2 linked regions of the Homo sapiens genome follow. The protein of the gene in region 1 purifies or fractionates together with the protein of each later gene. This does not show direct contact. Each region holds a gene or a part of one and is shown in the gene's direction. Other genes may lie near its edges.

Region 1 (16,139 bases):
CTGCCCTGAATTATGGTGAAAGTGTATGAATTATATGCCCCATTTTCAGCTATACAATTTAGAGCTCCACTGGAGTTCTGTGGAAGACCAAGTGAGGAGCTTTCAGTTTTGGAAAGTAGATACTCATATGACATAAATGGTCTAGATTCAGGAAAAAGAACAGCTAGGCCTTGGTGATGGCTTCTGAATGCAGTTTGTACAATTTACAACTCAAGTGTCATGTGATATCATTTCTGTGGGGATTCTCGTTCAAAAATAATGAGACTAATGTTGATAAACGATCGAGATTTTTATTATGAGTTTCCGTAAAGGTGTAACACAGGGGTCTCTCCCAGAAAAATAGAAAGTAAAGCTTCCAACAATACTTCTCTATATCTCTCCTCCCTCCAAAGTTCCCTACTTATGACGGCTGCTAAAATTCTCCTCCTCTTTCAATCTCCCAATCCTTCCATGTTGTTATCTCACAGTTTTCTTTCTACCCTGTTCACTACCTTCTTCCCACATGGTGTAAAAGTGAGAAGCTTCTCTTGTACCCCTGCCCACCAACCATACATAGAAGACAGCTAATGGCCTCCCATTTCTCTCTCTCTTCTTGGCAAGAAGCATGTAGCATCCCCTACAAAGTATATTTTTCTCCTCCTGAATGATTTTTGCATGAGACATTTTCTTACAGAGAAATTCCGGGGACTAACATTCTCTACTTTGTTTTATGTATATATAATAAAGTATATAATATACATATAAAACAAAGGTGTATATATAAAGCCAGATATATATATCTGACTCATTGCAGCCTCAACCACCTGGGCTCAAGCAATCCTCCCACCTCAGCTTCCTGAGCAGCTAGGACTACAAGGCTGTGTCACCATGCCGGGCTAATTTCTAATTATTTTGTAGAGATAGGGTATCTCTATGCACCCAGGCTGATCTCAAACTCCCGTCTCAAACGATCCTCCTGCTTTGGCCTCCCAAAGTCCTGGGATTATAGGCATGAGCCACCACACCTGCCCCTTCTACTCTGTTGTATTTAGAAGGAGAGAATCTTATGGGAGAAATTCCTGTTTTAACTTGTTTTAATCTATTACATAGAAACTGTCTACAGGACTATACTAGATTTCTACTTTTCGTTAGTGAAGAAGAAAGTTGTTATACGGAAAAATCTTTTAATTTTTTCATTTTTTTGAGACAGACTCTCACTCTGTCGCTGTGCTAGAGTGCAGTGGCACGATCTCTCCCTATGTTTTCTCCTATTAGTTTTATAGTTTCAGGTTTTTAAGTCTTTAGTCCATTTTGAGTTGATTTTTGTATATGGTGTACCACAAGCTTTGTAAACACCCTGCCATCATAGTGGTGCTCTGACTTATCAATATTCTTTTTTAAAAGTGTGTCCTTTCTAACTGAATTAGTATGTTCAACAATTTTATTTATTTATTTATTTATTTTTGAGACAGAGTCTCACTCTGCTGCCCAGGCTGGAGTGTGTAAGTGGCACAATTATGGCTCACTGCAGGCTTGACCTCCTAGGCCCAAGTGGTCCTCCTGCCTCAGCCTCCTGAGTAGCTAGGACCACAGGCACACGCCACCACACCTGGCTAATTTTTTAACTTTTTGTACAGACAAGGTCTCACTCTGTTGCCCAGGTTGGTCTCAAATTCCTGGGCTTAAGTGATCCTCCCACCTTGGCCTCCAAAACTGTTGGGATTACAGGTGTGAGCCACTGTGTCTGCCCCAACAACATTTTTTGTCTAGCTTTTTCTCTTTTAAAGAAACAGTTGTGTTTTACATTTTTCAGGTAATTGAAGTTTATCCTTTCAACTAGTAAAAAAAGTTTTAAAACCAATCCTTTGTAACACAGAAATACCCCTTCGTATGATCTTTTAACTTAGTTTTATACATAAAAATAAATCTAGGCTGGGCATGGTGGCTCACACCTGTAATCCCAGCACTTTGGGAGGCCAAGGCTGGAGGATTACTTGAGAGACCAACCTGGGCAACACAGCAAGACTTCACCTCTACTAAAAATTTTAAAAAATTAGCCCGGTGTGGTGGTGCACTCCTGTAATCCCAGCTGCTTGGGAGGCTAATGCAGGAGGGTCACTTGAGCCTAGGAGGTCAAGGCTGCAGTGAGCTGTAATTGCACCACTGCATTCTAGCCTGGGCAACAGAGTGAGACCCTGTCTCAAATGAATGAACGAATACATAAATCTACCTTCTAGAACCATAGTATAGTAACTTTGTCTCCTTCCAGCAGATGGCACTGAAGATTGTGCACAGTAATTTAGTAATTTTAGTCTAGGGCAGTGCTTCCCAGCCTCTTCATGTTATAACATAGCTAGAAAATAAGGATATTTTTGTTGGGTAAAAGACAAGGATGCTTGCAGCCAAAGGAGACTAGCCTGAGGATCACTTGAGTACCCCCTAGTTGTCCCAATGTCTGAAGAGGATTAATATCTTAATACATCTTTTAATGAATTGCACTCATTCAGTGTGCCCTGGTGTAGTGGTGCCCTGATGTAGGTCATCTTTTTATTAATTTGGGGCCTATTATGAGTTTATGTTTTAAAATGTGCTTTATAAATATTAATCCCAACATTGATGTCAGTGAGAAAGCAGTGAGAATTTTGAAGGTGGTAGTAAGAGTGATGTGAAGATTAAAAAAGCAGAGATTGAAAAATGAAAATTCATAGTAATAAATATACAATAAAGTGGTATGACCCAGTTGAAATTGGGAACAATTCTGAAAAGCAAAGAGTGACTCATGCCATATGAAAATGCCATTTGCTATGGACTGAATTCTGTACCTCCAAAATCCATATGTTGAAGCCCTAACCCCACATGTAACTATATTGAAGAGAGGGCCTTTAAGGAGGTGATTAAGGTTAAATGCAGTCGTAAAGGCAGAGCCTTGTCCAATAGAACTGGTGCCCTTATACCGAGACACCAGACAACTTTCTCTCTCCCCATCTCTGCCTGCCATGTATGGACCAGTGAGAAGGTGGCCATCTACAAGCCAGGAGGAGAACCTTTACCAGAACCTGATCATGCTGGCACTCTCATCTCAGACTTCCAGCTTCCAGAATTGTGGGAAAACACATTTCTGTTGTTTAAGCCACCTCGTTTAAGGTATTTTGTTATGGTGGCCAAAGCAGACTAATTCACCATTTTTATATAACAATAATCAGTAAGAAGAAAAGTAATTGACAAAATGTACACACTGTTGACCATGTGATGAGAGGATCAGTGTCAACTCTGGGCACCCATTAACCCATTAGGAGATGGTTCAAGTATCTTAAAGGCCTAAGAAAGTAAAGTTATGGAAAGCAAGAGCGCTAGGCACATTTTAATCTGTACAACATCAACATGAGTGGTAGCAGGTGTGAATATACGCCAGCTGCTAAGAAGTTCCTTTAGGCTCATTAAGGAGGGGCATTTCCTTCCTTAAGGGACTTCAAATGTAAATCCAACAAAAAATGCCCTTTGGAACCTTGCTACTCAAAGTGTGGTCCATGGATCAGCAGCATCAGCATCAGCATCACCTGGGAGCTTGCTAGAAATGCAGATTCTCAGGTCATTCTAACCCTACCCAATAAGCATCTTCATTTTAACGTGATCATCAAGAGATTCATATGCGCCTTAGTCTGGGTTGCACCACTATACAACTTATATCAGTAAAAAGAAGAGTAAGCTTTGTTCTAAAGTTTCAAAGGACTGCCTCACTTTTCTGTTTTCTGGAAATGCATATGTGGCTTACTCCGAACTTGTGAGTATTGGGACTTACGAACAATGGAAATTTTGGAACCTAACCTGTTCATATGTAAGAGTTTCTAAAGTTCCAAAATGGGTTCTGTATTCCTCTGGTCTTCTGAAACAGAGTACAGAACATAATTTAATTTTTCTTTGCAATTGAGGACCAAATCTATGAATATCTGTTTTGGTCCTGATATATGGTGATGTCATAAAGCGCTTTCAAGTTATAAAGCAGGTGTTCGGTATGTGACAGTTCCCTTCACTTTATTTCCTTCAGAATACTAGGTTATAAATTTCTCAGATGGCAGAGACTTGTGGACTATGTTTATCATATTTCCAGTGGAATACATAGGGTTGTTCAATGTAACTAATTGTGTCAGAATACCGTGCATTTTTAATTCATTTTTCTAATTGTCTTGTTTTTCCTGTGCTTATTCTGCCAACTAATAGAGATTGCTCCTCTCAAACTACCTATATTAACAGCATTTCCTTCCCTTGCCTTGTGATTCATAGTTTCTAATCTGCTGTGGACTAGTTAAGTGTCTAACTACAGAAATTACAGCATGTCTGAAACAACAGCCAAATAGTTTATGTGACAATCAGAGAATTTCCTGTAAGTGCATGCACTATTGTTCATGAGTTGACTATGTGGTAATTATTTGCCAATAATCTCATCTTTTATTTTTCTTTTAGTATCTTAGTTGTGTTTTAGACCACTGAAATGTAAATGAGAGTTAAATGACATCAACATAAGTGATCAAATATTATTAAAGTCAGTGAAATTATTTATTCTCATGATAATGCGTGGTGAAACTCAACTGGAATGCCATAATGAAAAGAAGAAACAAAGATTCACTAAGAGCAAAAAAAAAAAAAAAAAAACACAGCCAGGATTGTTTTTAATTCAAGAAATACAAATACAAGTCAGTAGGAATATATAGAAAAGTTTCTGCATACCTTTGAAAACAGACCATATCTTATTCATTTTTGTATCCCCAATACCTAGCCTATTATAAATGTAATAAATCTGTAAATGGATCAGATAAAGGAGGAAAAAGCAGAAAACTGTTTCTTCATATTGGGAGATGGACACCTAATAGAGAATGCCACTAAAAGGGAAGGAGTGATCTACAAACGCCAAATGTGATTTACAAACTAGAGAATAAAAACCCTAGTGAGAAATATGGAAAGCCAGGCTACGATAAAGAATTGACATTTCTTGGCTGGGCATGGTGGCTCACGTCTGTAATCCCAGCACTTTGGGAGGCCGAGGCAGGCAGATCACCTGAGGTCAGGAGTTTGAGACCACCCTGGCCAACATGGTGAAACCCCATTATCTACTAAAAATACAACAATTAGCCAGGAGTGATGGTGCATACCTGTAGCCCCAGCTACTCAGGAGGCTGAGGCAGGAGAATCGCTTGAACCCAGGAGGTGGAGGTTACAGAGAGCCAAGATGGCGCCACTGTACTCCCGACTGGGTGACAGTCTCAAAAAAAAAAAAAGAGCTGACATTTCTTGAGCTAGAGATAGGCGTTCAGTTGTCCAAGGCTCCCACTTCTGTTATAGAGAATAGAGTCCTAAGTTGGGGATGACAAATAGTAACACACGTATTATTTCACTTCCATATATGCAGCAGAGATTAATTCAATTACCCACTCTTTCTCACTGAACAGACTTGGCCTCAGCATCTGCATCAACACTATACCTCAGAGAATCTGAGTTGACATAGGAAACATCATAATTGGCATTTGTGACACTGTAATCACAAATCTACAAAATATCACTTTTATTGGTCTGTAAAAGATTGAAGAGATGTCCTGAAAGAAAGGACCATCATCTTCCAAAGTAAGAGAATGAACCAATTCAGCTTAACTCTGCTATTCAAAAGCAGTGGTCCTCAAACTTCCCCATGCATCAGAATTGCCTGGAGAGCTTGCTGTAGGGCCCTATCTCCACCACTTCTGAATCAGTATACGGTCCAGGGTTTGGGCCCACAAATCTGCATTTCAAAAACTCTGAGATCTACCATTGTAGAGTACACTGGAACAAATTCTAAATATGAAAAACTGAAAATCTTTTGACAGCAAGACAGTAAATCATAACTAGCATAGCTTTATGAAGAAAAATGTAAATTAACCCAGTATAGTTTATAGTAAAGCAATGGTCTGGAGCTAAATAATCCTTGGTTTGACCGCTGGTTCTGCTAATTCCAGGTTCATGATTTTTACTAAGATTACTTCAGCTCTATAAACATTAGTTTCTTCACAGATAAAATAGGGATAAGAAAAATATCCCATGGAGTTATTGTTAGGATTAAATAGAAAAAAATACATATCTAGATTTACAAGCACAGTGCCTAGTAGATGGTTCAATCCTATTCATTCAATTCTTCATCCTTTTTTCACTTATAGTAGTAATGGAAATTAAAGCAAAAGAGTGAAATATTTTCATAAAGGTTGTAGTGTTTGTCAGGAGGAAAAATATCTACCTTCTAGAAGGGGTGCCACGGCAGCGACAGCACAAGGCCCGTGCGTCTGGGGTTCCTGTAACAAAAGAAAGGCATATGAATGTATGATATTTAATGTAAGTTTTACATGGCACCAGAGCCTTCATAAGGAAACGAAGACCTGAAGAAACCTGAGCGTTTTATACCAAGCTTGATGAAGAGTAGACTGTTATGGAAAACTGTGATAAGACAAAAAGATGGGCTAAGGGCAGTAAACTGGGGGAAACCTACCAAGGCCTATTCATTTAGATTCCTCTTGGCGTCTCTCTGTCTTCACAAATAAGACTGCTTCTTTTCTCCAGGTATAGAGAGGGCATCTCTCACATGAGGGTCTTATGACCTGCTTCATGGGAAGGTCAGAGTCCTCACACCTGCCATTTCTCAAATTCCATCAGCTTAAAACATTCAATATGCCAAGGTGTTATATTTTGGGGTAGTGTGCCCTGAACACCATCATAAACATGCTAGAAAAATTCTACAGCAAATTAGTGGACAAGGGGAAGGAGCTTAGGTATTAAAGATTGTGGAGAAGATCTATTAAAACACAGGGCCCCAATCCTCCTCTTAAGGAGTCTCCCCTTAAGAGACAGGGTTCACTTTCATCCCATATACTTCTGATTAAAAGGAGCCTCTTATACCCAGGAGAATACATTCCAGGTGCAGAAAGCCAATTACCTAGTTATTCCCTTACCCACGTAATTATAGACCTTAATCCAAATTCAAAGGACTCCTGGGAGATGCTGGAATCTGTAATTGTGTAATCTCTTTGATGAAGCACAGAGTGTGATCTTTTGCTCATGTGGGGCTAGGTTTCTGTGGAGAAGCTGGAAATGCTGTGGAAAAGGGCTTGCCCCTTTTGTGTATATGAACTCTAATGTAGTTGAAATTCCTAGAAGTCAAAGATATAAATCTAACTACTAAAATTCATTTAGTGCATTAAAATGCCAGTTATTAATTTACGGCAACAACTAAAGGGAAGCTTTGTATTATTCTAGGACTACAATGCAATTTATGCTTTGCATAATCATTCAGTAAATGACTTATTGCTCCAGAAATACCATCTTGCTAGATCCCATTCTGAATTCAGTGTTTCTGAGCAATCTCATCTCCAATACAGAGTGATGACATACTCAGGATTCCAAGACGGCAAAATGACTTGGGTAATGTAGTCTAGGGCCTGCCAGTGAGTATGCTGAGACAGACCAGAAAGACTTAAAGATTCCACTAATGTAGACAAAGCAAGCTGAGCCACAACTTCTCGGAACACCAACAGGATGCACCAACAATCGACAAAAAAAAAAAAAAAAAAGGAGATAAAGTTTAAAGTTTGTCTTCCAGCATTCCCTTACCCTATTTTCCCCTTCCTCTTCCCTACTTTATCAGTGGGAAAAGTTCTCAATAATGCAATTCTTACTGAGATTCTTGTGTTTATCAGAGAAATGTTTCCTCTTTCTTTGCCAAGGAATTATATATTCCCAACAGACATGGCGCTTGAATGCTATATTTCCTTTGGAATCAAGAAAGGGGAGGTGGGGGAATCAAAAATTAAAAACCAAACCCAAGCCATTGTTCCTCTTCGAGGAAGGGTGGGTGGTCAGTCGTCGCCTGAGCTCCGAACATCAACCCGCGGCTCTCAAGTTCCCCTCCCAGTAATGCTGGGCCCAGCCTCGCCGCGGCCGATCCAGCCTCTGCCCTAGGTGGAAGCGGGCCACCCGGTCCCTTCACCCACTGAGGCCCAGTCCTTTCGCCTCAACACGAAGGCACCTGGCCGGGCCGGAGCAGCAGCCGCGGGGCCGGCACTGGGGCCACGGAACCCCGGGCCAGACTCAGGCCTGGGCCAGCTCGGCTCCGGCCTGCAGGGGGCGCTGCGGCGGCACCGGCGCGAGGCCCGCGCGTGCGGGGAGCGACCCCAGGTGTAAGTCCCGGGGCGTGGGGCGCGTGGGTCAAGGCGGAGCGACCCAGGATCCCCGCGCCCGCGGCGGCCGCCGAGTGGCAGCGCTGGACTCGCGGAGAAGCTTGGGTACCTGAGCCGCGGTCCCGGGTGACACCCTCAGTGACGCCAGGCGCGTTCCTTCCTCTTCCTCTCTCCTCTCCGGCCCCGCCTTCCCTTCCCTCCGCCCACCTCCCTGAAGCGGAGCCGCCGTCGCCACCAGCGCCGTCATGTCGGCCCCCGCCGGGTCCTCTCACCCGGCCGCCAGCGCCCGGATCCCGCCCAAGTTCGGCGGAGCGGCCGTCTCAGGAGCCGCAGCGCCCGCGGGCCCGGGTGCGGGCCCGGCGCCGCACCAGCAGAACGGTGAGGCGGGCGGCCCGGGCGGAGCGCGGGGCCTAGCACCGGCTGGGCGGCCTGCACGGCCACATCGGGGCGGGGCGGGCCGGGCCGGGAAGGGCGTTCGGGGCCAGGCCCGGCCCGAGGGACGGGAGCGGGCGCGGTGCGGAGGCCGCGGGGTCCGGGTTGGGTGCGGGTAGGGGGCAGGGAAGGCACGGCGCGGGGCGCGCGGGGGTGGGACGCCCCTGGCGTGGGGGCGGGGGCCGGCCTGGGAAAGCTGGGGCCGTGGCTGTTTATGTAATGCGACCCCAGGCCCGAAACGGCCTCGGGCGAGTAGGGGCGACTGAAAAGCTGGGAGCCCACGTAGTAAAACCCAGTTACCTAGCCTGGACGCGGGCGAGTTGCCCCGAGCGACCCCTTGGCTGCGAGAGCTGGCCAGAAGCCGAGGCCGCTGAGTGCGTGGTCCGGAGAAGGCTGGTGCAGCCACCCAGCAGGGTGGATTGTGCCCTTCCTGTCTCAGGAAAATTGCTTCGGTTCCCGAGGCCCAGCGAACACGCTGCCTTGAGGAAACTTAAGTTTGCACTCAAGTTTGTAGACAAAAGGGTGTAAATATGCTATATAAGTGTAACTGTAACCCTGACCCAGTTCGGCCTCAAGAACTGTCATTGCCGCTGCGGCTGCTGCTCAAGCTTTTGGAGTTTGCTTGTAGTGTTTGAAAGGGAGCAGATGTAAACGGATTTAAACGAACATCTTTAGATCTGGGTGTTTTTCCTAGCTCCACTTTCAGAGATGAAAAAACGTGCCAGAGTTGGCCCTGCTTTGAGGCAGGGCCTTCATACAGGCAGCAGCCAAATGCAGCACGAAAGCCGCTTTCATATTAAGGTCGTGGGCTTTTAGTAGGCTGCAAAATGATGGATATGCATTCCCTAATGCTGAGATTTGGAATGTTCGCGGATAGGGGCCAAGGGTGGAGGAATTCTCCTTACAGACTTCTTAGTATGTCAGATGAGAACCTTGGAAAGTAATTGACTGAATTTAGAAAAATACCTCTGTCCTGTGTTGGTACGAGAACCAAACTGCATTAGTACTCTCCAGATGATTGACCTGTTTTATCTAATTTCCTAATGAAAATCTGCTGGACTTTATGAATTAGTTTAATCAACATCTAAGTTTTACAACTGATGCTTTTCAAACATGAAGTGTATCGTTTGTCCTGAGGATCAGAAGTTGAGTGATACTTTAGCCTTAATATTCTTTGGATCAGCCTTACCTATCAGTATTACATGCTGTACTCTCAGTAGTCATTGTTTACTATAATCGCTTTTGGATATAAACCTGTTCTGAACAAATGTAAAAATACTATTTGTGAGCAGTGTTTGTTCTTGTAACCTTAATATAAGTTCTTGTTTTTGTTTGTTTTTAAAATAGCTTTATGAAGGAACTAGAACACGATAATTTAGTAAAAGAGCCCAAGTCTTTTAGAACATTGTAGACTCATGTTTACCAGTGATTCAAGGATTGTGTCTTTCCTTGATTTTCTGAATATGCATTATCATCTTAGTGAACAGTTTTTAAAGTGGCAAATGTTTATTACAGCCTTATAAATTTTGTGAACACTCAAGAATGCCAGGATATGTACTCAGCCAAGTGTAATCAGGATGTTAAAATCTGTAAGAACAAATCAATGTTTTGATGCCAAATATAGATGATGCTTGAGTTCTCTTGTTTATAATCACTACTTTCCTTTAATGTTGCAATAATCATTTCAACATTTATTGCATGCTTACCAGTTGGGGACTCAAGGTTAGGGTAGCAGATGAGACAGAGTCCCTGCCTCTCTCCTGACTTGCCCTGTATTTGGTAATGTTTGAATTGGTTCTGGCTAGCCTTGAGGGACTCGACAGGTTGGGGTGGGAGGGAAAGGTTGACTCTAGGCAGAGGTTACAGCATGAACTAAAGTTTGGAAATATGAAAGTGCAGGGCATGCTTGGAAAGTGGAAGGAGTCAAGAGGTGCAGAGGGTGCTGGGTGGCATGGGAAGCCAAGGCATCGAAGCCGAAAGGAGCAGGTTAAAAGGGGTCAGGTTGCAGAAAGGCCTTAAATGTTATGCTAGGAAATTTGAAAGTTATGGTAAAGTGTAAGAACTAGGGTCAGGTAGAGTACGAGGTCTCCCTGTGTTGCCCAGGCTGGTCTGCTGGGCTCAGGTGATCCTCACACCTTATCCTCCAGAAGGATTTTTGTTTTTGTGGAAGGGATTAGTTTAAGTAGAGAAACAAGATTAAATCTCTTTTTGTTTTGTTTGCTAATCTCAAAAAAAAAAAGTTTGCTACGTGGTATCAGCATGTAGTAAGCAGTCATTTGGGTTTCTCATTTATTTTTCAGTCCTACAAAAGTAGTTAGCCTTTTAATATATCTCTATGGAATTCCAGACATGGTGAAAAAGAAATAGGTCAGAAATATGAGCATAAAACAGACAGAATTGTAAAACTGGAATGGTACCTAGAAATCACTCACTTCAGTGTTGTGGTGTGATATGAAATACGTTTGGCCTTTGTCCTGGGTTCCTGTAACAGCTCCTAAAACCCTTGTAATTTCCTGAGTGATAGGAGTGTCGCTTGCTACTCATAAGGAGTCTTTTGATCACATTTGAGTTTGTGCTAATGAGATGACTTAGGATGGGTCTCCTAGACAGCCTCAGGCTGGAGCTGGTAACCAGAAAGACCAAGTAATTAGAGAGTTGGGACTTTGAGTCCCCACCCATCATCCCCTTTGAAGGGGAGTGGATAGGCTGGAGATGAAGCTTTATAAAAACTCTGGAACAGTAAGATTTGGTGACCTTCTGGGTTGCTGAACATGTGGAGATGCTGGGAGGGTGGCGGCACCTGCCCCCATCCTTTGCCCTGTACATCTCTTTCATTTGGCTGTTCATCTGTATCCTTTGTAATATCCTTTATAATAAACAATAAATTTAAATGTTTTCCTGACTTCCACAAGCCCTTCTACCAAAGTAATTGAACCTAAGGAGGGGGTAGTAGAAACTCCAGTTTGTAACTGGTTCCTCAGAAGTACAGATGGCAACCTGCTACTTGTGATACTTATGATAGGCATCTGAAGTGGGGAGCCATCTTGTGGGACTGAACCCTTAATCTGTGGGATCCGAGTCTAACTTCAGGTAGGTAGTGTCAGAATTGAATTGAGTTGGAGGACCCCCAGTTGGTGTCTGTTGGGGAAAAATAAAAACAAAAATTCACACATCTGGTCACAGAAGTGGTCTGTGCAGAATGAGAGTAGAGTGAAAGAAGTTTTTTGTTTTTTATTGTTTGTTTTAGAGACAGGGTGTCACTCTGCCACCCAGGCTGGAGTCAGTGACTCCATCATAGCTAACTGCAGCCTCAACCTCCTGGGCTCAAGTGATCCTCCTGCCTCAGCTTCCCAAGTAGCTAGGACTATAGGCATGCACTACCACTCCTGGCTAATTATTTTTATTTTTATTTTTGTAGAGACTGAGTCTCACCATGTTGCCCAGGCTGTTCTCTAACTCCTGGCCTCAAGTGATCGTCCTGGCTAGACCTACCAAAGTCTTGCGATTATAGGTGTGAGCCACTGGGCTGGGCCCTGTTTTTTCTTTTACAAGTGGTTAGCAAATGGCAAACTTTTTTTGTTTGTTTGAGACGGAGTCTCGCTGTGTCGCCCAGGCTGGAGTGCAGTGGCACGATCTCAGCTCACTGCAACCTCCACCTCCTGGGTTCAAGCGATTCTCCTGCCTCAGCCTGCTGAGTAGCTGGGCCTACAGGCGCACACCACCACTCCTGGGTAATTTTTGTATTTTTAGTAGAGATGGAGTTTCACCATGTTGGCCAGGATGGTCTCCATCTCCTGACCTTGTGATCCACCTGCCTCGGCCTCCCAGAGTGCTCGGATTACAGACGTGAGCCACCGTGCCTGGCCCACAAACGTTTTTTAAGATTTGTTTTTCCAAAGGATATTGTATATAGATCCCTGATAGAGAAATCAGAAAAAAGCAAAGTGGTTGCGGTTAAAATAGAAGTAGAAGTTCAGTTGTTTTTAAGCACAGTTTGAAAAACACATAGTTTGGATCCCTACCTTTACAGATGAAATGAAGATTCAGAAAGGTTAAGTAGGTACATTTTCTACCAATTCTGTGAAAGCTTTGTGAGGGTGGCAGTTTTTTCTGTCTCTTGTTCACGTTGTATAATAAGAGCCTAGAACAGTATAGGCAAGTTACAGGTATTCATTAGACATGTATTAAATGAAGTCCATTTTATTTTTGCTAATTCCAACTCTAGATCTCTTCTTAAAACTTTTTGTCTGTTTGTTTATTTATTTATTTATTTTAGAGACAGAATCTCACTCTGTCACCCAAGCTGGAGTACAGTGTTGCCATCATAGCTCACTGCAGCCTTGAACTCCTGGGCTCAAGCAGTCTTCCCACCATGGCTTCCTGAGTAGCTGGGACTATAGGTGTGTGACACCATACCCAGCTAACTTTTAAAAAAAAATTTGTAGAGACTGATCTCAAACTCCTGGCTTCAAGTGATCCTCCCATCTAGACTTCCCAAAGTGCTGGGATTACAGGCATGAGCCACCATGCCCAGCCTAAAGATCTCTTTCTGTTAACAGACTCTAAGAAAATTCTTTTTAGAAACTTTGATGTTTGAGAAGAAAGGAATAGAGAGGCAGAAAACCTAGTCTTCATGATCACTTTTACTTGTTTTCTAGGTGTAACTGCTAGCATGTTTCCTCCACTTATTCGAAGATACAGCTTGACTTGATTTCAAGTCTGTGAAATCTTTCTCTTAAGCTTCCTTCCTTGGTGTTGTATTTCTATCCTTCATTTTTCATTGAGCAATATATGGATTTTTAAAACTATTTGTATTTCCATACCAAGCATTAATTGAATATTTCTTACCTTTTACTCTGCCTTTTGGGATTCCTTCCAAAGCTGAGTCCTCAAACGTAGGAAGACTGACTAAAGTAATAGCCTGGTAATGAACTTGTTGGGAGGTGAGGGGATGGGGCAGTCAGATTTAATAATAAGCTGCTGCTTTTTAATTTTACTTTTAGGAAGCAAATGGTGTTCATTTTCAAATGAAAGTATATTTTAATCCTTCCATATGCCCTTTTCCAGAATGAAACTACAGTTTTATCACTTTAATTGTTAATAATGCAAGAAAGATGAGATAGTAATGGGAATTACTAGAACTCACTATGGAAGATGTAAATAAACATACCATTCATACAGCAGTACTATCGGGTCAGTCACTGGAAACCCTTAAACTTTGAGGGCACATGCAGCATTTAAAATGATATAAATCTCCCTAGTGTATCTCAAATAAGTTCCTTTTGATCAGAGCCACATCAGTGTCTCAGGTTTCTAGTCTCCATTTATAGCTAACCGGAAGCATCAGGTCCTCTCATGAATATACCCCTGTGGTATTAAAGTGACTGTGTCTGAATACATAATTTCCTCCTAAGCTGATTTTTTTTTTTTTTTTTTTTTTTTTTTTTTTTTTTTTTTTTTTTTGAGACTGAGTTTCAGTCTTGTTGACCAGGCTGGAATACAATGGCACAATCTCAGCTCACTGCAACCTCCGCCTCCCGGGTTCAAGCGATTCTCCTGCTCAGCCTCCCGAGTAGCTGGGATTACAGGCATGCGCCACCATGCCTGGCTAATTTTGTATTTTTAGTAGAGACAGGGTTTCACTATATTGATCAGGCTGGTCTTGAACTGCTGACCTCAGATGATCCACCCGCCTTAGCCTCCCAAAGTGCTGGGATTACAGGCGTGAGCCACTGAGCCTGGCTCTAAGCTGATTGATAGATATCTCAAAGATCTTAAAGTAGGCCGAGCATGGTGGCTTACGCCTGTAATCCAAGCACTTTGGGAGGCTGAGGCGGGCGGATCACTTGAGGTCAGGAGTTTGAGACCAGCCTGGACGACAGGATGAAACCCGTCTCTACTAAAAATACAAAAATTAGCCAGGCGTGGTGGCAGGTGCCTGTAATCCCAGCTACTCGGGAGGCTGAGGCAGGAGAATCACTTGAACCTGGGAGGTGGAGGTCGTGGTGAGCCAAGATTGTGCCATTGCACTCCAGCCTGGGGGACAAGAGCGAGACTTCGTCGCAAAAAAAAAAAAAAGATCTTAAAGTATTCACTCCATATGTAAACAAGGGTCTTATATCTGGGTTTAATTTTTATTTTTTATTGCTATATATATTGCTTTAGTTGTTTGCAGTGTCTTTTCACTCCCTTCCTCTCCCCCCAAGTTTCTGGGATTGTAGCAGTAATTAATTTTGTAAACCATATTCATTGCCACCACTAGTATTTCATGTTACTTTATCTTTCCAATTCATCTGTAATTCCTGAAGTATTTTATGCTAAAGGTATTAGAATAATTTTCTTTCCTAGAAATGAGGCATCTTCATTGTCAGCATTGTTAGAAAAGATCATGTTATATATATTCAGCCCTGGAGAAGCTACTATTTTCAATAGGCTGAGCATACTCAGAATTGTCCAGAAGGAGTGGACTAGTGAAAAGGTTGTAGGCTTTGATATAGCCCAAATTTTTGTGGAGAAACTTACTTAACATGCTTCAGAGTATAATAATACCTTTCTTACAGAGTTGTTTATAGAACTACATTTAATAAGGTACTATTTTTAAAGTACTTAGCCCTAGAAGGAGCTTAGCAATTAGAGTCCCTCCCTTCCATTTTCTTCAGAACACCGTTTTATAAATTCTTCAGGTGGCAGAAACCATATGAGTTTTCTTCATCATATGCCCAGTAGTAGCAGCTTGTAATAGGCACTCAGTTAAGTGAACTTGGTTTCCTATTCGTTATTGCTTTTGAAGACTGGCCACTGACAGGAGTCTGTGTGCCAGCTCCCTCTCCCCTTTTTTGTATTTAAGGCTCAATCACTATTTTAGTCTTCTCTTTATTTTCTTCTGCTTTCCAGTCCTCCATCCCTTATGTCCGCAAATGCATTCTTGGAAGGTTTCTGGTAATAGGCCATCTATTTTAGCTAGTTTGCTTATGGAAAGGTAAGTTTAATGGGTTTTAAGTTTTCTAAAATTGTGTGCCAGAAGTCATTTGTAACAGGAACTGAGGAAAAGCAGGATGAAGTAGCGAGAGGGAGTGGTAAAATCATGTCTTGCCTAGCCAGTGGCCAAGTCTTAACTTGTTTTCCTTAGGATTTCTGATTAATGGATATTGTGAAATGAGGTATAAGCCTGGCTTTGGAACCAGCAATGCCTGGCTTCTTTGCTCCTTACCAACGATTTGAATTCGTATGAATTAGTGGGCTTTCATGGCCCTGTTTATTTGTATATAAAAGATGATAGTGATACTTCACAGAATTGTTTGAGAAGCATATCAGATTATATGTAGAAAAGCAAGGTATCTGGCATGTAGTAGATTCTGAACCAATATTGATTTTCTTTTCTTTCTGTATTTTGAGACAGGGCCTCACTTTGTCACCCAGGCTGGAGTGCAGTGATATGATCACAGCTCACTGCAGTCTTGACCTCCCCGGGTTAAGGTGATTCTCCCACTTCAGCCTCCTGAGTAGCTAGGACTACAGGGGCATGCCACTATGCCC
Region 2 (15,766 bases), on another chromosome or scaffold:
CACACAGCAGCAAGGGGGTTGCAGCCCTATGGGAGGTGGGGCTCGTGCCTGGGGTGACACGGCTCCCAGGACACCATGCGTGAGTCTGGCCCTCCTGGCAGCTCGGGGCTCTTCTCCTCTCAGCCTCGGAGGGATGAAGGTCCCACCCAGCCATCCTGGGGACAGCCCCTCAGGGAGCTCTGCAGCAGGCAGGGGGCTGCATAGGGAGGGCCTTGAGGCAGTGGCATGACCCCTCTACGGGCTGGAGACCACAGGGAGGACTCTGGCCCCTATAGGAGGGCAAAGGGAGCTGTCGAAGCCTATGAGCAGGGCAGCATGGGTCGTGGCAGAGTCTGGAAAGTTGTGTGATCCTAAGGAACTGGCTGAGCGAGGCAGAGGCGGCCTGGTCCTGGGGCCCTGCCCCTGAATAGAGCTGCCAGCCTCACACAAGGGTGGGCCCCTTCTCTCCCCACTGCCTGGGCCTCTGCCCAGCCCCAGACCTTCAGGGCAGGCCAGTGGCTTCAAACCAGAGCGGTGGGGAGTCTGAGATCCCTCTTTGGATTGCAAAGCACTGCCTGCCCTGGGCCCAGTCTCTCCAAGGAGGGATGTGAGCCCGAGGCCTCTACTATGGCTGGGGGCTGCGTCTGCCAGCCAGCGCTGGGCACCAGGACCAGGAGGGGCCACCGTGGAACTGCAGTGAGTGGCCTGACTCTTGTCTTCAAAGGGGGTGACCCAGCCGGAGTCCTGCCCATAAAACTCCCAGCACCCTGAAATTCCACTCCTGGGGGTCTGTCCGAAAGAAGTGAAAACAGGGACTCAAACAAACGCACGTGGCCACTTGCTGTCCCGGCATCACTCAGTACAGCCACAGACAGCCTGAGCGTCCACTGCCAACGACGGGTCAGCAAAACCGTCTGCTGTGACGGTGAACCTTAGTGTCAGCTTGGCCGGGCCATTTCGCCAAACGGAGTGTGTCTCTGAGGTGTTCTGGATGAGGTTCGCATTTGCATCCACAGCCCGGGTAAGGCAGTCCGCCCTCCCCAGTGTGGGTGGGCCCCGTGCGGTCCGCTGAGGCCTGGGGAGAACAATAGGCCGAGTGCCAGGGGTCCTCCCACCCAACCGCTTGCACTGGACATTGGTCTTTTCCTGCCTTCAGACTTGGACTGAAAACGTGGGCTCTTCCTGGGCCTGGAGCCCACCGGCCTTCGGACTCGCAACGCCATCAGGCCTCCTGCCTGCAACTGCAGACCCTGGGAACTGCAGGCCTCGAGGTCGTGTGGCCAATTCCCTGCAATAACCTCTCCAGTGGCACGTCTTATGGGCTCCGCTTGCCGGAAGAACCCTGACGAATGCGCACGAGGGAATATGATTCCACCGTAGAAAAGGAGGCGCTGACACCCACCATGCGGACAAGCCTTGGAAGCACGGTGCTCAGTGAAGGGTGCCGGCCGCAAAGGGCCGCAGGTGCAGTGACTCCATTTCTATGGGGTGCCTGTGGTCACCGAACCCATGGAGACAGAAAGTAGATTGATGGTTCCCAGAGCCGGGGGGAGGAGGAAAGGGGAGTGGCTGCTAAACGGCCCGGGGTTTTTTTTTGTTTTGTTTTGTTTTTATACTTTAAGTTTTAGTTTATTGTGGCACTGTTCACAATAGCAAAGACTTGGAACCAACCCAAATGTCCAACAATGATAGACTAGATTAAGAAAATGTGGCACATATATACCATGGAATACTATGCAGCCATAAAAAATGATGAGTTCATGTCCTTTGTAGGGACGTGGATGAAGACGGCCCGGGGTTTTACTTTGGAGTGACGCAAATGTTCTGGGCCCAGGGAGAGGTGGTGCGTGCACAGCCCTTCGAGTGCACTAAATGCCAATAACGCGGACACTTTTTTTTTTTTTTTTTGAGACGGAGTCTCGCTCTGTCACCCAGGCTGGAATGTGGTGGCGTGATCTTGGCTCACTGCAACCTCCGCCTCTGTGTTCAAGTGATTCTCCTGCCTCAGCCTCCAAAGTAACTGGGATTACAGGCCCCTACCACCACACCCGGCTAATTTTTTTGTATTTTTAGTAGAGATTGGGTTTCACCATGTTGGCCAGGCTGGTTTCAAACTCCTGATCTCAAGTGATCCACCCGCCTCGGCCTCTTAAAGTGCTGAGGTTACAGGCGTGAGCCACTGCACCTGGCCTAACTCGTACACTTTAAAGTGGTTAATTTTAGGTTCTGTGAGTCTCACCTCAATATGTTATTTTTTTTTTTTAATTAAAAAAAGTTTTTGAGACAGGGTCTTGCTCTGTCACCCAGGCTGGAGTGCAGTGGTGCCATGATAGCTTATTGCAGCCTCAACCTCCTGGGCCCAGGTGATCCTCCCACCTTGGTCTCTCTAGCAGCTGGGATTACAGGTGCACACCACCTCACCCACCCAATTTTTTTGTTATTTTTTGCAGAGATGGGGTCTCACTTTGTTGCCCAGGTTGGTCTCGAACTCCTGAGCTCATGCAGTCCTCTCCTCACCTTGGCCTCCCAGAGTGCTGGGATTACAGGTGTGGGCCACTGCGCCTGGCCACATATGCAACTTTAAATATTTCAGTAGCCACATTAAAAAGGTAAAAAGAAACAGGCAAAGTGTATATTAATACTACAGCTTAGTTAATCCAATATATCAAAAATATTATTTTAACACAACATAAAAAGTGAATGAGTTTTTTTTTGTTGTTTTTTGTTTTTTGAGACAGAGTCTCCCTCTGTCACCCAGGCTGGAGTGCAGTGGTGCGATCTCAGCTCACTGCAACTTCCGCCTCCCGGGTTCAAGCGATTCTCCTGCCTCAGCCTCCCGAGTAGCTGGGATTACAGGCACCTGCCACCACGCCCAGCTAATTTTTGTATTTTTAGTAGAGAGGGGGTTTCACCATGTTGGCCAGGCTGGTCTTGATCTCTTGACCTCGTGATCGGCCCACCTCGGCCTCCCAAAGTGCTGGGATTATAGGCGTAAGCCACCACGCCCGGCCGTGAATGAGATGTTTTATATTCTTTTTGTTTGTTTGTTTTTGGTACTGTGTCTTTGAAACCCAGGATGTACAGTACACTCACAGCACCCTAGATTGGGCCTGGCCACACTTTAAAAGGTGTTCAGTATCTCCAGGAGGCTCACGTCCAGATTCGGACTCTTCAGCAGGATGCCAAGGGGGCTCCAGACAGTTCCACCCAGCGCAGGAAAACACCAAGTGTATCTTCAGCCTGGTGACTCACTCCACGCCGCTGCCGGCGTGAACCCCGAGTGTGGCGCTGCGTCCCTCTGGATAGAGCAAAGGAGGGTCCCAAGAGCCCGGAGGCACCAACTCATCAGGGCCCACAAATCAGGCCCCCGGCAGGCAGGGCTGCCTCCATCCAAGAGGGAAGCACGGTGCCGTAGCCCCCGGGCTGCTCCAGGGATCGACAGGCCTGTGCTGCCTTCATCCCAAAAGTCTCACTTGCAAAGGGTGTCCGTGGGGCTCAACTGCGTGCTCAGCGGTGGACTGATTTCGTTCTGTGTGGCTCCTTATCTCATCGTGGACCCAAATCCACGAACCACACATGAGGAGCTCTGCTGGAGGGGGCAGCACTGGGCAGAGGCAGACAAGGGGGAGCGTCACGCGGCTGTTTCCCGTGGTGAGCATCCACCAGCAGCGGTTCCTGGTGGGACACCGACGTATTCGTCTGCAAAAGTAAAAGTGTTTCAAAACAAAACCGGGTCCAGCTTGGTCCCGGTGCGTTGAAAGTGCTGGCGTTGGCCAGGCGTGGTGGCTCACGCCTGTAATCCCAGCACTTTGGGAGGCTGAGGCGGGTGGATCACAAGGTCAGGAGATTGAGACCATCCTGGCTAACACGGTGAAACCCCGTCTCTACTAAAAAATACAAAAAATTAGCCGGGCGTGGTGGCAGGCGCCTGTAGTCCTAGCTACTTGGGAGGCTGAGGCAGGAGAATGGCGTGAACCTGGGAGGCGGAGCTTGCAGTGAGCAGAGATCATGCCTCTGCACTCCAGCCTGGGCGACAGAGCAAGACACTCTCACAAAAAAAAAAAAAAAAAAAAAAAAAAAAAAAAAAAGTGCTGGCGTTAGTGGAGGTCTCTCAGAGGGGGCGTTGCAGGGCCTCCCACGTTACTCAGGCTTTGCAGACGAAGACGCAGGGTCAGTGAGTGAGCGAGCTTTGGGAAAGGCTGTTCTTCAATCTGCATCTTGAAGGTGGCTGGGTGGCGCCTCAGTCGCCTGCCCCGACGTGACTCCCGATCTGGCTGCTTTGTGTCTTTGCTTTCCACCTGGCGGCTGCTGTCCTGGCTGTTGCTGTACCTCAGTGTCCTCGTGGGTCAAGTGGGGACCTGGGTGCTGGCCCTGGGCCTGCGATGGTGAGCTGCTGGTGCACGCTGGGCATGGGGTGAGGGCTCAGAAAGGGAACAGCTCTTGTTATCGTTAGGAGGTTTTCAATCGCATTCTTTGTTCTCCACCTGCATGCCGTGTTGGCACAGTTAAGCCTGGCGGCCCCTTCAGCAGGTGTCCTAACCGTCTACATTTTAAGATGGACAAGTCTAGGCTCATGGAGATTGCAGGACTGAGCTGCGAAGCTTTATTCATGCCCAACACGACAGGTGCCAGGTGCCCAGGGCCTCAGAGGTGGGTTTCCGTTGTTCTTCACACAACCTTGAACTTGTGGCCCATCCCTGGACCTTACAGCACAGGACACACTCTCAGTGTTTGTTAGGAATCTATAATTTTCTGCGGAGTCACGCGTGATATTTGCTGTGGCTTTTGGTATATCTTCCACTCTATCGCACGGGATTTTCTGGTGAAAATGTGCCCTGGGTCCACACAAACGTGCACATTCTACCACAGCCTTTGTCGTTCTGTTTGGCATTTTTCCATTTAATAAAATGAACCTTAGAAAAGTTATAACTACGGCCAGGCGTGGTGGCTCACACCTGTCATCCCAGCACTTCGGGAGGCCGAGGCGAGAGGATCACCTGTGGTCAGGAGTTCCACACCAGCCTGGTCAACTGGTGAAACCCCCCTCTCCACTAAAAATACAAAAATTAGCTGGGCACCATGGTGGGCACCTAGAATCTCAGCTACTTGGGGGGGCTGAGGCAGGAGAATTGCTTGAATTCGGAAGGAGGAGGTTGCAGTGAGCTGAGATTGCACCACTGCACTCCAGCCTGGGGGATACAGTGAGACTCGGTCTCAAAAAAAAAAAAGAAAAGTGTATAACTTTACTTTTTTTTCTTTTTGTGGAGATGGAATCTTGCTATGTTGCCCAGGCTGGTCTCAAACCCCTAGGTTCAAGTGATCCTCCCACTTTGGCCTCCCAAAATGCTGAGACGACAGATGGGAGCAACCTCACCTGGCAAGCGTGCACCTGTTACTTTGGCCGACTCAGAGGCGGCTCTCTGCCTCCCCCTGGTGGCACTGCTCTGCCAGCGCCCCACAGGTCCTCCCGAGTGACCACAGGGCAGAAATGGCCCTCACCCCACGCCCAGGGCCATCCCCCGCGACACTGCTATTATCCTGTTTTACACATGAGGAAGCTGGGGCTCAAAGAGGTTAGGCGACTTAGCCAAGTTCGCCCATTCACTGAGCCAGGGCTATGTGATTCCCGGTCCGTGTCAAACCACGAGGAGTCACCTGCCCTCAGAGGAGCAGGAAGGCCTGTAGAGTTGATGCCATCCAGCCTGGTGACTTTTCAGACAGGGAGACGGCTGCTCAGAGGGGAGAAGGGGGTTGTTGGGCCACTTTGCCAGGAGTCAATACCATGGCCAGCCTGGCATCGGATACTTTGCCAGGAGTTAATGCCACGACTGGCCTGGCATCGAATACTGGAGCTCTTCCCAGCTCCACCCGGGCCCTTTTCTCTTCCCTATCTACAGTCCCCAGGCCACCAAGTCCATGTCCACCACTTAAATCATCACTCAATGCTCAGGACTGTCTCCTGCCTGCTGTGTGTGAACCCCGTGCTGTGCTGGGGTTGTGCCCTCGGGGACTCTCCCGGGTTCTTGGGGACTCTCCTGGGTTCAGCGCCTCTTTCTCCTAGGCCACCCAAGGCTGCCTCCTGGGCCCTGGCTCTCCCTAGCCCCTAGCTCGAACCCTAACCTGGAGAGCCTTTGGGGCCCAAACTGGTTGCATCGCTCCTGGCTGAAAAGCCTCTGGAAGCTTCCTATACTTCCAGACACCACCTGCGGGTCTCTTAGCAAGCCTACAGAGTCCACACTAGCCTACGCCCACTGGCCGCTCACCCCGCAGAAGCCTCATGTGGACTGTTCACTTCAGCCAGAAATGCTCCTTCTCCTCCTGCCTGTCCCCAGCAGACACTGCATGGTGCCCTCTGTATGGGCACCTCTGTGGCCAGCCAGCATCCATGTTCCCCGGAGGCAGAGTCTGGGCTTGTCTGTCTCACGGCCACAGCCCAGCTCCTAGCAGTGCCTGGGGTACAGCAGGGACTCAGCAGACATCTGTGCATGGTTTGGGGATAGAGGACTCGTGAGCTTACCAAGACCCTGCCTCAGCTCAAGGACAGCCAGCAGTTCCTCCTGTGGCCCTGGGGGCCTGCGGTCCCAGGTTACTGTGACATCGACATCAGCCTTGAGCTTTCTGCTTCATTCCTAGTGCTTTTTAGCACCTTACATGGTAAGTACTTGGCTCAATGATTCCAGAAAAATGTTCTCTGAGACCTGCTATGTGCCCAACATGCTTGAAGATGCTGGAGATGAGGAGCATGACGCTCCTGCAGTAACGAGGCTGCTGGCAATGCCGTCAATGTGCCCTGTGCCTCCGGGGAGGCCTGGTGTGGAGGATACGCTTGCCACCCTGTGAGGTCAGGTCCAGGAAGTCCTTGCAGGAGGCCGGGAAAGGGCAAGGCTGTCACCTTCTTTTACAGGGGAGGAGGCAGAGGCTTGGAAAGGCCAGGTAGCTTGCCCAAGGCTGAACACCTGGGTAGTGGCTGAGGGTCTCTGACTTCTGGAAGCTTGCAGTACAGCTGGACACACGGTAGTTAGCCCACCATTGCTGGAGCCATCTTACCTGTGCTCTGCTAGCCAGGTGGGCGCCCAAAAGGAGATGCCTTTGCCTGTGCTGGGAGGAGGCGCTGTGGGACCCATTCCCCAGCAGCCGAGAGCAAGGGCACATGTGCCAGGGCGGGGATGCACCTTCAGCCTCATGTCAGCCCTGGGAAGGCCTAGAAAGTGGACAGTGCTGTCTCGCTGCACACCCCTGGCGAGCACACCGGGCGAGCACTCCAGGTTAGGGTGGGGCTCAGAGGTGAGTAGAACACGGGAAGGGGGTGGCAGCGTGGTGAGCATGTTTGCGGACCCTATGCTGTGTGCTTGGCAGGCCTTGTGCATGGAAGTGAGTGGGACTGAAGCTCCCTCCACACTGCCCACCATGGCCCTGGGGGTCTGGCCTTCCCCTCACAGAGGTGACTTCCTCTCCTCTATGAGGGTAAGAAGAGGAAGCCTGGCCCACCCTCTGGCCAGCCTGGTGGCATGCTGACAGGGAACCCCTGCAGGGGCCTGATGAACAAACGCCACAGAACAAACTCTACGGACCCTGCCTCCAGATCTGCTTCCTCTCCCCTGATTCCAGCTTCCCAGCCCTATTCCCTCCTCCTCCAGGAAGAGCTCCGTGTCAGTGCTCTCCACCTTGGAGGCCTTCATATGTTTTTTTGCCTGGACCACCCAGCTAACCGTCTCACAGAGACTGCCCCTTCCTCTCTCCAGGCCAAGCCTCCAGCTTCAGCGTCCAGGACTAAGGGTCTGTGTCAGGGGCTGAGGACAGTGTCCGGCAGGGAGCAGGCCTGCCCAGTAAACCTCCACAAGCACCCAGACATACTCGCCACTGCTATTTTACACCAGGTAGGAAAGAGGAGCAGAAGCTCACAGTGAGGGGCCGTCCTGCGTTCACTGAGACTGCTGCTCTGCTGGGGGCTCCCTGGAGGACCGCCACTGGCCCGCCAGTTGTCAGCAAAGAGCCAGGTCCACCCATCAGCCTCTGGCATTTCAGGCCCCTATCATAGGAGGCTATAAGCACAGGCTAGGGGTGCTGAGTGCCTGCCTTCTAGACCAACACTGTCCAGTGGAAATGTAACACCAGCCCCATGTGGAGTTTTACATTTCCCAGCAGCTATGTCAAAAACAAAAGAAACAGGTGAAATAAAATTAAATAGTATTTTGTTTAATCTGATACATCCAAGATATTGTCATTTTAATATGCAATAAAAAATGATTGATTCGATATTTGCATCCTTCACAACCTACCATGTAGTTTACACTCAGAGCCCAGCTCAGTCTCACAGCAAGCACCAGCGGCCCCCGTGCTGGACAGCATGGCTAATGGGAGGAGCTGACCCGTCGGAGGCACCAAGGTCACGCTGTGACCAAGGCTGTGGTGACGCAAAGGCAGCGGGTTTCCTGGCACAGCCTGGAGGTGCACCAGCCTGTCCTGTGTGCTCTGCATAATGTGGTACAGCAGTGGTCACAGAGCTTTGCACCAGATGCTGATTCCAGCCCACCTAGGGGGGTTCAGGGAAGTGGTGACACTTGTGTCCAGCCTCCAGGTGTGAGCAGGGGCAGAGACTTGGAGAATGGAGAAACCAGCGGATGCTGCAGGCAAAAGCAGCAAAGCCCCACCAGGAATAGTGATGGCCACCACCGGCGGGACACCTCCCAGCACTGGGTGGAGGCCTCTGCTGGCTCGCAGTCAGTCACCTGATGTCCCCATTCGCCCCTGCCATGCTTGTTGTCCTGGCAACCCCATTTCAGCCCTGAAACGTTTAGGTGCTCATCTTGCTCTATCTTAGAGATGAAGACCTGATGCTCAGAGACTAAGGAAGTTGAAAAAGGGCACACAGCGTCTCAGGGGCAGGCTGGGCCTTCAACGGAAGGGTCTATGGCCCAGAGGCTGGATGGGCTCGGGTGTAGGGTGCAGGAACCCTCCACTCCACATCAGGCTACAAACTGCTGAGAGCTGTCTCCGTGCACTCAGGATTAGGGAGAAGAGGGGGAAGAAAGACAGCCGCGCCCCCTGCAGGTGATGTGGTGATTCACACCCCTAGGAGCCAACAGAAGCCGCTGTCTAACATCCCTGCCCTGAGGTCCAGAGACCTTGCATTTTATGCCTAGGGCAGGGTTGGTTTCTGCAGCTATGGTCTCTCCCATAGCTTAGTGCCCACCCCGGTGGGACCACAGGGTTTCGGAGGACCCTAGAGGGTCGAGCCCTGGGCTCCTGGCTCTTGGGTTCTTTGAACTCGCGAGCGGCAAAAGGCGAGCCCCACGCCTGAGAGGCAGCATCCACCTCTGCATCCCCCTCTTTGGAAAGGGCAAACAATGACACCTCCTTCCGCGGAGGGTGCAGAGCGCCTCGACCACTGGGAAGAAGCAGATGGGGGCAGCGGGGCTGGGGCTGGGCCCTACCACGTGCTCCCTAACTCTGTTCAAACAGGTCAGGAATCTGACTCCTGAAAGGCAAATGTTAGCTGAGCAGATTGGCCCTGGTGCCACGTCAGCCGGACTGAAGCTCTCCCTGCACCGCCTGCGGCCCTGCTGGCGTGGCACGGATATCACCCCCTCCCTCACCAGCCGCCGGCCCAGCTGGGGACAAGGGTGGCTCCCACCCAGGGAGGACCTCAGCCGCTGCTGGGAGCTCAGCCTCCCGCGATGCCATCGGGCGGGCACCCCCACCACGGCGCCTGCCCTCTGGAAGGAGCAGCAGAGGAAGGCCGCGGCTCTTCCCTGCCCTTGCCAGGCAGGTGTGCAGGTGAGTGGGCCCGGCATGGCTGGCCGCTTCCTCAACCGCTCAGCCTCCCTCGGCTCCTCCGAAAAATGAGGGCACAGAGGATAGTGCCCACCTGTTCCCTGCGATCTTCCGCGGGAGGGCGTGGATGCTGCCTGGCCTGGCCGTGGCAGGCACAGGAGCGCCTACCCGCCTCACCCCTCCGCTGGGTCGCTCTGGCCGCCCGAGCGCCCGGGCCCACTCGCCACCGACGTGCACTCAGCCAAGGCTGGGACCCCAGCGCCCCTGTGGGGCTGGCGGCCGGGGGAACGAACCGAGTAGGCCGCACCTCCCCGGGAGGACAGCAGGGCTGGGGCCAGGGTGGGCCTGGGAGGGCCCGGCGCAGCAAAGGCGCAGGGCGGAGCTTGGGGACGAGGAGCCCGCGCGTCCCCCTTGCGAGTCGGCGGACACCCGGCTCCGCGCGGTGGCCGGGCCGCCCCTCCCTGCCCGGGCCTCTGTGCAGAGCGAAGGGACAGTAGAGGATGCGTCGGGGAAACCCCAGGACGCTGGCCAGGGACTGGCGGCAGCCATCGACCAACTTCCGGCGCCGCTCGGTGCCCGCGGCCACGCCGTAACCAGGCAACCAGCGCGCAGGCGCAGTCGGCCCTCCGCGTCCCGCAGCTCCGGCCGCTCCCGGCGCATGCGCGGCCGCCGCCGCCTGCCCTCCAGCCTCCCAGCCCAACGGAAGAATGCGAGGAGCGCGCCCGCGTCAGGGCCCCGCGCTTCTCAGCTGGGCGGAGTAGCCGTTCTCGGTGCGTGAGCCTGCTGGCATCGGTCCTGCAGACTGATTTCCCGCTTGTGGCCTTGATTGAAGAATCCCATCTCTTCTCACATCTTAAAACGAAAAAAGACTGGGAGAAAGAGCCAGCGTAAACAGGGCGACGTACTGGGACGGCCCCGGCGCGCCTGGCCGGGCAGGTGGCGAGGGGCGGGGCCAAGCGGTGAGGCGGCAGACGGACGCCGGAGGGGGGCGGGGCCACGGGCGGGGAAGGACGGCCGAGGGGCGGGGCCAAAGGGGCGGGAACGACAGGATGAGGCGGAGAAAGACGGACGACGGGCGGGGCTAAGGGGGCGGGACGAAAGAATGAGGCGAGGAACGACGGAAGAGGGGCGGGGCCAAGGGGAGCGGGAACTACAGGATAAGGCGTGGAAGACGGGCGGGGGGCGGGACGAAAGAATGAGGCGGGGAAGAACGGACGCCGGCGAGGGGCGGGGGCAGAGGGGGCGGGACAGAGGGATGAGGCGGGGAGGACGGACGCCGGCGAGGGGCGGGGCCGAGGGATGGGCTGTGAAGGGCTGAAAGAGAACGCGTCTGGGCCGACGAGCCGAGGGGCGGGGCCAGGGGCGGGGCGCGCGCTGATGTCGTAAGCCGGACACGTCGGCGGCGCGGCGGCCGCGGAGACCCGAGCCGGATGTGCCAAGATGGCTGCGGCGGCTGAGGTGTCTGTGCTCGTCGCCAGCGTCGGGTGGGCTTTCGCCCGCGGCTCCTGAGGGATCGGTCTCAGCCGCGCGGGTGAGGGGGCGAGCGCGGGTGAGGGGGCGAGCGCGGGAGGAGGAAGGCGGAGGCCGGCCGGCGGAGCCAGGCCGTGGAGGTCGGGGCGCGGAGGAGAGGAGGCGGCTGGGCCCAGCCCCGAGCGGGCGGTGCATCTCGGGTCCCGCCGGGGCCGGTCGAGGGGACAGACGTCCGGGCCCCCGGGCCAGAGCGGAAGGCCGGACGCGGCGCGGGCCGCCGTGGGACTCGAGGGACTGACGTGGACCCGGCTGGGCTGCGGTGACGCCGGTTCCCGGGGCGGGAGGCTGGACCCCCAGGCACCCCTCGTAAGACTCTTAACTTTTCAAATGAGCGTGTCTTGTCCTCACCGGCTAGAAGGCTTCCTTAGCGATGCTGGTGAAGAGACACATTTACATTTGAACCAAAGAGCAGAGTTGTTTGTTTGTAATTTCTTGATTGGGCGATCAGGATGTTGCAACAGAGGCCGAGGGTTAGAGGAGTGTGTGTGATCCGGCTCGCCCCTTTGTGATGGAAGTGTTACAGTAGAGCCTTCAGAAACATCAGAGCCATTTAAAGTCAGTTTTTGCCGCTTAAGAACACTTTTAAATGGCTTGTAAGTTGGGTGTGGATTGTATATTAAGATTTTGTTTTACATGTGTGATGCCGATGTTAACCAAAGAGGTATTTCCCATCCCCCATGTGGCAATACGAAGCAAACGGAACCGCAGACGGTTCTTCCTAGAAGTGATACTTTTGCAAGTTTCAGCACAATGCAGCCTCCCTGCGTTTTTTCCTCATCCCCTTTCTTAAGTTTCAGGTGCTGGTATCTTGTAGACAAGAGGCAAAATAGCGTGTCTTTCTTGTTCCTTGTTCCTCGTTTACTGTTAATAGTGGTTACTACAGTGAGTCTCAAAATTGTACTTAAAGTTTTCTTTGAGGCAGTGGGCACTTTTTTTTTCTTTTTCTTTGTCTTTTTTTGCCAAATCCAGCAAGAGGTCATGGTAGTGGGTAAATGTTAATGTGATTTCTTCTTCTGTAAGCATCTTTCATGAATACCAGGGTCTTCGTCATTTTCATCAGTGTTAGGCTGCTGGCCTCCTCTGTCGCTGGCTTCCTCTTCAACATCTAACTGTATGTGGTTGCGATTCTAACTTAGAAGAGTTGGAGTTGATCATGTCTTTGTGTCAAGCATCCCACAGTCTGACAGGGCGTCACTAGCAGCCACCGTGAGGGAGACTGTAGGCAGTAGGTAAACTCAGGGGCTTCCTGGCACACTATTGTTTTCCTCACTTAAAATATGAAGCCAGTGGCAGCAAGAGGAGAGGGGTGTGCATGCATTTTAAATGCCTCAGTTCTGTAGCCAGAACTGTACTAAAAAGAGTTTTGCTTAGGTATCCACATGGTTACAAGGCAGTTTAACTGACTAGCTAGGTTTATGAATACTGCATTTTCAAGATCAGCTGGCCTCTTTGGAACAATAAAAGAATTAGATGACTTGAGGTTACAGAATAAAATTCCCTGGGCCGGGCGCGGTGGCTCATGCCTGTAATCCCAGCACTCTGGGAGGCTGAGGCGGGCGGATCACGAGGTCAGGAGATCGAGACCATCCTGGCTAACACGGTGAAACCCCGTCTCTACTGAAAATACAAAAAAAAATTAGCCGGGCGAGGTGGCGGGCGCCTGTAGTCCCAGCTACGCTGGAGGCTGAGGCAGGAGAATGGCGTGAACCCCGGGGGGCGGAGCCTGCAGTGAGCCGAGATCGCGCCACTGCACTCCAGCCTGGGTGAAAGAGCAAGACTCCGTCTCAAAAAAAAAAAAAAAAAAAAAAAGAATAAAATTCCCTGTAGTGGTGACATAGGTGATAGGCAGTTGCATTGTTTTTCTCCTGGTGAGTAGAGAAAAAGATCAAAAAAATCAGTTCAAGTCACAAGATTGTTCCAAATGAAAGTGGCATGTTGCTAAAAAGCTCTCAATTAGGGAGCATGAAGGTTGGAATGCTCCTTGTAAGTGATAATGTTTGCCATAAAAAAGCTCTTAGTCTAGGAGAGCTGCGGAATAATTTTTTTTTTTTTGAGACGGAGTCTCGCTCTGCCCAGGCGGGAGTGCAGTGGCGCGATCTCAGCTCACTGCAAGCTCCGCCTCCCAGGTTTACGCCATTCTCCTGCCTCAGCCTCCCGAGTAGCTGGGATTACAGGCGCCCGCCACCACGCCCGGCTAATTTTTTGTATTTTAGTAGAGACGGGGTTTCACCGTGTTAGCCAGGATGGTCTCGATCTTCTGACCTCTTGATCTGCCCGCCTCGGCCTCCCAAAGTGCTGGGATTACAGGTGTGAGCCACCGTGCCCGGCCACCCCTGTTAAACAGCAGGTGGGATTAGGACATCCCAGAATCCACTGTGAGTAGAATCTCATAAGATTAAACCCGGGTTTTTTAGGAAAAAATAATCACATCGATTCTCGCATTTTATAGACAAAAATACATTGCAGAAAGAGGAGTGGCTGCCTCGAGCCACTCACCTGGACACTCAGTTTTGCTCTCACAGCAGCAGCCAAGGAATAAACCTCTAGGCCCGTGCTCTGTGTTTAAAGCAAACAAAAGCTTTTGAGGATGATAAGGATCTTCCCGGGGAAGGCCATGTCTTGAGAGATGAGGTAGGACCCCAGTTCTGGCAGCAGAGTTTCAGGAGGTGCTTGGAAGTTTGCGTGTTCTGGCCGTGGTTGCAGGTGTCGCTGTGTCTGCTGTGGCTGTGCAGCTGGTAGGACCCAGTGGAAGATAATGCCAGTGCACAGATCAGAGGAAGATGCTCTGCCTGTTCTCCTTTCAGTCCATATAAAATAGAGCTGTGAACATTCTTTGTTTTCAGATGAGAGCCTAAAACCTCCATGAAGCCTTTGCTGCTGTTCCTAGTAAATAGCTTGACTTAAAATACATTGATCAGTGTTTTCTTCTTTTTTTTTTTGAGACAGTTTCACTCTGTCGCCCAGGCTGGAGTGTTGTGGCTTGAACAAGGCTCACTGCAGCCTCAACCTCCCTGGCTCAAGCGATCTTCCCACCTCAGCCTCCCGAGTAGTTGGGACTACAGGCACGCACCACCACGACCGGCATTTTTTTTTTGGTGATGGGGTATCGCTGTGTGTTGCCCAGGCTGGTCTCAAACTGCTGAACTCGAGTGGTCCTCCTACCTCCCAAAGTGCTCGGCTTACAGGTGTGAGCCACTGCACCTGGCCAGTGTTTTCTTCTTTTATCTGAATATCAGAAAGATTTCCAAGAGACCAAAATAATATACATCTGCAAAGATGTGTGGATTGGCCAGGCACGGTGGCTCACGCCTGTAATCCCAGCACTTTGGGAGGCCGAGGCGGGTGGATTATGAGGTCAGGAGATCAAGACCATCCTGGCTAACATGGTGAAACCCCATCTCTACTGAAAAGACAAAAAATTAGCCTGGCATGGTGGCAGGTGCCTGTAGTCCCAGCTGCTCAGGAGGCTGAGGCAGGAGAATGGCATGAACCTGGGAGGCGGAGCTTGCAGTGAGCCGAGATCGCACCACTGCACCCCAGTCTGGGCGACAGAGCAAGACTCCGTCTCAAAAAAAAAAATGTGTGGATTAAACTACAGAGTCCTCCCCTTTGGTTTAATTTTTCCTTTGATTGGCTAAACTTATCTGTTTGTTCATGAGGGTGGTGCTGACAAGAAGAAAGACTGATAGAAAGAAAAGAACTTTCCTAAAGATATAGTCCTTGAATTTTTGCCTTAAGAGGCCAGGTTAACTATTCAAGTTTGTATCTACTATGTTTTATTTAAAAACTGATGGAGGTTTTTGCCCCTTTCTTTTCTGTAAGAGGTTTCTTGGCAATTCTGCCTGTTGTTGAAAGTGTTGGAATCCAGTCTGTGCCTTGTAAAGCTGCTTTAAGTTTCCTGGGAGTTTCCATTCCAGGCACAGTTACGGCTCCAGTTCAAAGGTAACATCTTGCTGGTGGTCCTTTCAGACCTTAAGCCAGTCACAGTACAAAAACGGAGACCTATGAAGAGGTGTGATAAAAGGCATTTAGATGAATATATTTATTTTGCAGTGCTTTTTAAAAAAATGATTGTGTCACTTTTTATTTATTTATTTTTTTAAAATAGAGACCGTCTTGCTCTGTTGCCCAGGCTGGACCGCGGTGGTATAATCATAGCTCACTGCAGCCTCGAACTCATGGACACAAGTGATCTTCCTTCCTTAACCCCCTGAGTCCCTGGGACTACAGGTGTGTGCCACCATGTCTGGCTAACTTTCTTCTTTTGTAGAGACAAGGTCTTGCTATGTTGCCCAGGCTGGTCTCGACCTCCTGGGCTCTGGCAGTCCTTCCACCTTGACCTCCCAAAGTGCTGGGATTACAGGCATGAGCCACTGCACCCAGCCTATTTTGCAGCTTTTATAACTATACTTCATAATGCTCTTTCATCAAAGAAAATGGAAGAATGAATTTTAAACTTTTGTATCCCTTTTGAAATTTAAAA

Evidence for each region.
Region 2: the proteins of SEC24B (region 1) and SEC16A purify together in Homo sapiens (affinity purification with western blotting; 2 studies listed by BioGRID and IntAct, with this or other methods). This does not show direct contact.

The regions. Positions count from the first base shown.
Region 1 is NC_000004.12:109,425,454-109,441,592, forward strand, and holds the start of SEC24B (protein transport protein Sec24B), read left to right. Parts: upstream 1-8,361; 5' UTR 8,362-8,416; coding exon 8,417-8,549; intron 8,550-16,139. UniProt on the Homo sapiens protein: Component of the coat protein complex II (COPII) which promotes the formation of transport vesicles from the endoplasmic reticulum (ER).
Region 2 is NC_000009.12:136,478,456-136,494,221, reverse strand, and holds the start of SEC16A (protein transport protein Sec16A), read left to right. Parts: upstream 1-11,181; 5' UTR 11,182-11,284; intron 11,285-15,391; 5' UTR 15,392-15,513; intron 15,514-15,766. UniProt on the Homo sapiens protein: Acts as a molecular scaffold that plays a key role in the organization of the endoplasmic reticulum exit sites (ERES), also known as transitional endoplasmic reticulum (tER).